2 linked regions of the Homo sapiens genome follow. The protein of the gene in region 1 purifies or fractionates together with the protein of each later gene. This does not show direct contact. Each region holds a gene or a part of one and is shown in the gene's direction. Other genes may lie near its edges.

What was found.
Region 2: the proteins of ZNF185 (region 1) and TRMU purify together in Homo sapiens (affinity purification with mass spectrometry; one large-scale study listed by BioGRID and IntAct). This does not show direct contact.

Annotation. Positions count from the first base shown.
Region 1 is NC_000023.11:152,914,812-152,918,566, forward strand, and holds part of ZNF185 (zinc finger protein 185), read left to right. Parts: coding exon 1-22; intron 23-326; coding exon 327-392; intron 393-2,319; coding exon 2,320-2,358; intron 2,359-2,473; coding exon 2,474-2,551; intron 2,552-3,031; exon of another isoform or gene 3,032-3,253; coding exon 3,254-3,343; intron 3,344-3,755. UniProt on the Homo sapiens protein: May be involved in the regulation of cellular proliferation and/or differentiation.
Region 2 is NC_000022.11:46,342,003-46,345,864, forward strand, and holds part of TRMU (mitochondrial tRNA-specific 2-thiouridylase 1), read left to right. Parts: intron 1-1,257; exon of another isoform or gene 1,258-1,259; coding exon 1,260-1,366; intron 1,367-3,862. UniProt on the Homo sapiens protein: Catalyzes the 2-thiolation of uridine at the wobble position (U34) of mitochondrial tRNA(Lys), tRNA(Glu) and tRNA(Gln).

The DNA of each region.
Region 1 (3,755 bases):
ATGAATCGGAGGGTCGCACCATGTAAGGCAAGGAGGCGGGGAGGGACCGCAGCAACGTGGGGGCGCGCAATCCGTGGGGGACCGACCATACCTGGGGATGCGAAGGGGCTTCCACCATTCAGAGCTCCGCCAGGCCATGTGGAGGGCAGAGCGTGGGAAAGGCTATCCAGCAATGTCACAGGGTGGGAGAGCCCCTGGGTGCCTGGGAAGGAGAATGTGTGGCAGAAATGGCAGGACTTGCTGGGCAGCCTCTAGGATGGAGGCCACAGGATGGCAGGTGACAGGGAGTCTCGGAGCCAATCCTTCAGGATGCCTCTTTCCCCCAGAGAGCTGCCCTCAGGCCGGAGTCGCGCCACATCCTTTTCATCAGCTGGGGAGGTTCCGAAGCCTAGGTAAGAGGTGGTGCTCAGGTGGCTGGTGGGTCAGCCCCAGGGACTCTCCTGCAGCTTGGGGCCAGCCCTCAACAGGGAGGGGTGGGCAGTCCACAGGGGACAGGGATGCAGCCCCAGCCAAGGGTCTGCAATGAGTAATTTGAAATCTGCAGGAAGGAGGGGCTTCTCCACTGCACCTTCCTTTTGGGAAGGGGAGTGTAGGAGTCACTTGGTCCAGGCCCTTGGCCTGGCTGTGTGGCTGTGGGGCAGCTGACTTCCCTGCTGGGCCTCCGTGGCTCCAGCTGTTAACTGGGATTGAAATTGTCTTTAAGAAGAAGACGACCTCCCACCCATTCCCTGCAGGGAGTGATACTGCCTCTGAGATGCTTTGGGCAGCTTCCAGAGTCACAGTGACTCACTCCTGCAGGTCACCCTGACTGCTTGAGTGTACTTGGGACTCAGCATGCCTGTAGAGAGGCACGAGTTTGCTCTGACTGTCTCCCAAGTTTACCGTGACATATTTTGTCAGCTGACCAAGGAGAACTGGCTTCTCTCTCTTTTGGGGGCTTTTCCATAACAGTGTCTAGGGGGGCTCTGAAGCGTGGGCACACCCTGCTGGCCTCTGGAGGAACTGCTCCTGACAGAGAAAGGGAACTGAAATTCAGGCTCGCTCCTTGCTCCAAACAGCCGGCAGGCGGCTTCTCAGGGGGTGGTAGAGGCAGTGGCGGCCTCTGGAAGGGAGGGCCTCAAGTTTACAGCCAGCACACAGGGCTACCTTTAGTAACTACGGTCTCTCTGTCACCCCTCGATGACTCAGCGCCCACTACCTGCCAGGTCCCATGCTGGGCACAGAGGATGCAGGAGTGGTCAAGACAAAGGCCCTGTCTTTGGGCAACTGACGTCCCAGCAGGGGACTCAGGCAGGACCCTAGTAAACAGTTCAATACAAAAGCGAGAACCCCCAAGTGTGCCTGCAACATGGCCACCTCTGGGAGGCTGTCCCCTGTTAGAGATGGAGATTGTGGGGTTGGAGACTACCGGAGGCTCTGTGTTGCCCTTGACCCAAACCCCGATGCTCCAGCCCACATCCCCTCCACTGCAGGACAGAAGGGTCTACCCTGACCCCTTGACTCCTCCCCTAACTCTGAGGAGGACTCTTTGCAGGGGCCCCTAACTCCTGCCCGGAGGCCAGAACTTCCAGGCTGACCACCCCTGGCTGTCAGCTCCCTGCCCGCTCGTCTTGGCTGCCCCCTGAGTTATCTGAGCCCCCTCAGTTGCTGCCAAGCAGGAGGTCCCAAGCACCCAGAGCCTAATGTTTCCCAGCCGCTGAACAAGGCCTGGCCGCGCCCTCTCGTCTCAAACTTCCACCAAGACTTGGGGTGTGGGCATGCAAGGAGCTGGAGCAAAGAGGGCCCCGAGGGACAGGAAGGGGGACAGCTGGCTTCGGCTGGCTGCTGCCTGGGCTCTCCCCTTCAAGCCCTCATGCACCTTCCTGGTGGAGGCTGTTGAGGGAGATCAGGTCAGACCCCGGGCTGAGGGGAAGCCTCTGGCTCTGACTGGGGAGCCTCCAGCTTGCACTGGTTCAGCCCCAAGCACAGAGGATGGGAGGGCTGTCAGCTGAGAGCAGTGCTCCGTCGGCGCAGCACTGGGAACTGGCTGGCCAAGGAGAAGCTGGACTTTGGAGAGGCCATCAAGCTGCCTTCCTAGGCACCTGCCATGAGGAGTCACCTGGGGCACTTTTCCTGGGGGAGCATGAGGGAAATAGGCAGAGCATAGCGGGCACCTGATCAGGGGCACAGGGGGCTGGCACCCCTCGTTTCTGCTGTACTGGGACACCTGGAGCACTTGCCAGCCAATCTTATTTGCTATCGTTAAGGGCAGGATAAAGTAGGATGACCTCAGCCCTCCAGCAAGCCTCGCTTCACTCCACCCCTTCTTCTCTTCGGCAGGCCTCCGAGCACAAGGGCTCCCACTGGCTACATCATCCGGTAAGTGACCGCAGGACTCTGCCGGCCTTCCTGTGCCCACTCACGCCAAGCCCTGACTTCTTACCCCTCCAGTCCCTCCAGGGAGCTCACCGGCATCTCCTGGGCTCTCTTTCAGGGGAGTGTTCACCAAGCCCATAGACAGCTCTTCCCAGCCCCAGCAGCAGTTCCCCAAGGCCAACGGGACTCCAAAAAGGTATGTCCATGGGGTGTTGGCCAGTCGGCCAGTGGGGAGGTGTGAGGGCCTGGTCTGGGCTCCTGGCAGAGACAGTGCTCTGCCTATCAGGACTGTGGGGCCTTGGAGGTGCCAGCTTTCATCCTGGGTAGGGCAGGACCCTGGAGAGCAGGGTGGGGTGACCAGAGGAGATGGGCTGGGGTGGGACTGGCAGTCCCAAGTGGATGTGTGGGTCTCTGGGAGGTCCTGGGCCACTAACAGTGTCCTTGTCCTGGGGTCAGTCCTGACTAGGCCTGGCTAATGGGACAGAGAGGTGCAGGAGTTTGGGAGGGGCTGGGTGTAGAGTCCCCCTAGCCTGGCAGTGGGCACCCTTGACTTGACTTGCTGATGGCATTGAGAAGGCTGAAGTTGCATGCAATTCAAGCACCTTGGCATCAGGCATTGCCTGGGACTCCGTCAGACTGGAAAGGCCAAGGGGACCCGGAAACAGGAAGCAAAGACACAGGCAAGAGCCCGCTGGGCTGTTCCCTGAAGCTCGGTGGGGTTTGCCTACACAGCTGCTCTGAGTGGCGCAGTTCCGGGTGTCTGTCAGGGCCAAAAGCAAAGAGGAAAGGCTCCCAGGCAGCTCCTGGTCCACCTCTCATGTGTCCACTGGGCTGTGTGGCCAAATCTGGAGGCAGGAGGGAGCCTGCAGGTAGACACATGGAACCTTCTCCTCTCTAGTGCTGCCAGTCTGGTGAGAACAGCTAACGCTGGTCCTCCCCGCCCCTCCTCCTCTGGCTACAAGATGACCACTGAGGATTACAAGAAGCTGTGAGTATGCAACGCCAGGCTCAGCGTGGTTCCCTCCTCCAAGGAACAAGTCCAAACTCTGGGTCCACTGAAGGCAGCTGACTACTTGCCACCGAGCACAGCCCGGGAAGTCCCGCCTGCCTGACACTCCCTGCCAGTTGCAGCTGTGGCCTGGAGCCCACCAGAGGGTAACAAGCCCCAGAAAACTGGATGGCTGTGCACATTGCACGTCTGATCCGAGGCAGAGCGGAGACCGCAGGAAGCTTGTAGGAGGGGCCCCACGGATCTGGGGAAAGGGTCATGGGTCGTGAGGCTGCTGCTGGCTGGCTGTGCTTCCTGGGCTTGGCCCTGCACCCGGCCGAGCCTCAGGTGCTCTGCCTGGCTGCACTGGGCTGGGGGCCTGGGGATCCTCAGGGTGCTGCTGTCAGTCTGA
Region 2 (3,862 bases), on another chromosome or scaffold:
GCTTCTGTGACAAAGGTGTGGGGGGTTTTCCCCATACAGCAAGCAGTGGACACCGACTGGGTGTCCTCTGATTCAGTTCCGATACCATCTACTTGGAGATAGTGCTGGATCCCAAAGGTTGGGGGTTCAGTCCCCCAGACGGACTCCCCCCACAACAGCAGTCGAAAGTATGGGCCTCTAGAACTTATGACCAACTGGCTTCCAGTTGGGATTCCCATAACTTCCTCTTTGGGTTCAATTATTAATAATTTGCTGGAGTGGTTCACAGAACTCAGAAAAACACATTTACCAGTTTATTATAAAGGATGTTGCAAAGGATACAGATGAAGAGACGGGTTGGGTGAGGTATGGGGAAAGGGTCATGGAGTGTCCACACCCTCCCTGGGGACCACCCTCCAGGAGCCTCCACAAGTGTAGCTGTGCAGAAGCTCTCTGAACCCAGTACTCCTGGGTTTTTATGGAGGCTTCATGACATCGCCATTCCTTCCCCCAGGATATACAGTGGGACTGTGTCTGGGGAGGGTCTTAAGACCCACAGTCAGAAAGGTAGACGCTTGTAATCCTAGCACTTTAGGAGGCTGAGGCAGGAGACTTGCTTGAGGCCTGGAGTTCAGTATCAGCATGGGCAACATGGCAAGACCTCATCTCTATAAAAAAAGAAAAGGTTGCAGTGGGCCAGGTGCGGTGGCTCACGCCTCTAATTCCAGCATTTTGGGAGGCTGAGGCGGGCAGATCACTTGAGGCCAGGAGTTGGAGACCAGCCTGGCCAACATGGTGAAACCCCGTCTCTACTAAAAATACAAAAATTATCTGGGCATGGTGCTGCGCACCTGTAATCACAGCTATTCGGAAGGCTGAGGTGGGAGAATCTGCAAGGGAAGTCTAAAGGATTTCATTTCCACTGTCACTCAGGCATCTTCTCTTCCTCACCTAAGCCCTGCTGTGTTGGAGGAGTCCCAGAGGCAGGGTTTTAGTGAGACCCTCACGGCCACTCCCCACTCCTGACCCCATAAGCCCTGTGAGCCTACACAGAGACGGTGGCTCCTGAGCCGTAGTGGCAGAGAATAACACCTTGTCGGGTGGCCCATGCAGCAGGTTATAAACAAATGTTCGATGACTGACGTTCTCCTGTTTTGCAGAAAATTATAGTTTTGGTATGACAAGGGGAAATTACATTAAACAAGCAATTTAGTGAACTTTTTTTTTTTTTTTGAGGAATGTTTCACACTTGGAACTGAAGTCATTTTCTTTTATTCTAGTGACTTTTTGAATGAGTATGAAAAAGGAAGGACTCCCAATCCTGACATAGTTTGCAACAAGCACATCAAATTTAGTTGCTTTTTTCATTATGCTGTGGATAATCTTGGTAAGTAATTTGGGTTTAAAACATTTTTTTTTTTAAAGACAGGGTCTCGCTCTGTCACCCAGGCTGGATTGCAGTGGTGCGATCATGACTCACTGCAGCCTCGACCTCCTGGGCTCAAGAGATTCTCCCACCCCAGGCTCCTGAGTAGCTTGGACCACAGGCATGCCACCATGGTGGCTAATTTTTTGTGGAGATGGTGTCACAACTGTATTGTCCAGGCTGGTCTCAGATTTCTGGCCTTAAGCAGTCCTCCTGCCTCGGCCTTCCAAAGTGCTGAGATTACAAGCGTGAGCCCCTGTGCCTAGCCTGTTTCTTCTTGTGGAACCTCCTGATACTGAATTGCTTGCTTAGACCACCTCTTGATGTCTGTGGCTATGCTTTATGAATTTTAGGTTCTTCTTCCTGTCCCCTGCCATTGGGGTCACCATAATGAGTTTCTGAAGTTCTGGCTCAGGCTTCTTGGTTTGCTCTGTCCCACTGCAGCTCACCCTGTTGTGTGTTGCTACGAGATACCATTGTAAGCCAGGGGCCCAGTAGTGTCGGCACTTTCAGCAATGATGTAGATTAGGCTTGCAGATTCAATATGTCAGCAACCTAAAGCTGAGTTGATGATAATGATGAAAGTTAGTTTGTGGAGTTAGGAATAAACAAATGCCTACAAAAACAAAAAATCAAAAAGAAAAATCTTAAATTTCAACATTGGGCTAACACCAAAAACATGAAACTTAATAGAGATAAATGCAAAGTTTGCTAACTAGGTTCAGTAATTCTCCTAGGACAAGATTGGAAAGACCTAGCTTGGTTGCCATTGAATCTTCTGCCATTGGTTGCAGAAAATCTGGGGGATTTAGGTGCCCCCAGGCTGACTGAGCCAGTAGTGTGATGTCTTTTGTCAGAGCCAGCACAGACGGAGCTCACCTTGATGATCATAGAATGTCTAGGAAGGGGTGATGCGTCCCCTGTGGTCCGTCCTGGTTAGACCGTATTAGTTATTCAGGAAAAGAGTGATAGACTGATAGAATGTGAATTGATTTTTATTTTCAGGGTATCTGGAAATATGTCCTCCCTGAACTGTTGAAATTACTTTGGGTCGTAGTGGCAGTGGTCAAGCGTGTGAGTTAGGATGACATTCTTTGTGTGACACCAGCAGACAGTTAGGACTGGCAGGAGAAAGAGTTCCCTGAGGTGGAGGCGCAGGCAGCTGTTCAGGAAGGGAAGGCTTGCCTTTGGAGAGCATTAAGCTGTCACGAAAGCTTTTTAGGGAGCCCCTAGGTGGCTGGCTGTCAGGCACGCTGTGGAAGGAACTTCTGCAGTGAATGTTTCCACACCTGGAAGAAAGGCATGAACCGTGCAGCACAGGATGAGAGGACATGACGCCCAGACTTCTGAACTCACCGCGCTTCTCAGAGGCATCCTGCGCTTTTTCTAGTATAAGTGCTGTTCTTTGAGGACACAGATGTAAAGTGGATTGTTTTCTCTAGGAGAACCTCAGTCAAGATGAGATTATGTGTCTCTAAAGTGCCTTTTTCAGGTCGTTAATATGCAGCAGCTAATTCTTGCTGTGTCTTCTGTTTACATGGAGCTAGTGTGGCTGGTCCAGGATGGCTGTGTCTTCTGTTTACACTGAGCTAGTGTGGTTGGTCCAGGATGGAATCCATTTTGCTGCACCTTTCATAAAAGTCTCTTGCAATACTAAATATCTGTAATTTTTTCTTTTTTTGAGATGGAGTCTCACTCTGTCTCCCAGGCTGGAGTGCAGTGGTGTGATCTCGGCTCACTGCAACCTCCACCTCCTGAGTTCAAGCAATTCTCCTGCCTCAGCCTCCCAAGTAGCTGGGATTACAGGTGCCCACCAACATGTCTAGCTAATTTTTGTACTTTTTTTGTAGAGACGGGGTTTCATCATGTTGGCCAGGCTGGTCTCAAACTCCTGACCTCAAGTGATCCACCCACATCGGCCTCCTAAAAGTGCTGGGATGACAGGCGTGAGCCGCTGCGCCTGGCCCAAATATCTGGAATTTTTACACAATGAAAAGGTTCTGGATTCATATGCACCTTGTTAGGCTCTTTGGCTTTGTGTAATATGAAAAGAAGAAACAGTGTGCTGGATGATTCTTCACTCTGATGAAAATAATACATATTTATTACAGAAAATTTAAAAGAGGAGAAACGACACCTATAATTTCACTCTCAGAATCAAAGGAATAGACCTGAGATTTTTCTTCAACTGTTTCTGTACAGTAAAAACCGTGGAATCATGGTGTTACATCCTCGCCCTGCTGAACAGTGCCGGGCATTTTCCCGTGTTAGTAAACATTCTCTGTAAGGACCCCCATTGTTACGGCAGTGCATTGTCATTCACTTCACATTCTCCCAGTGTTGAACATTTTGGTTCTTTTTTTTTTTTTTTTCCTCCTGAGACAGCATCTTGCTCTGTTGCCCAGACTAGAGTGCTGTGGTGCAGTCTTGGCTTCCTGCAGCCTCAACCTCCCAGGT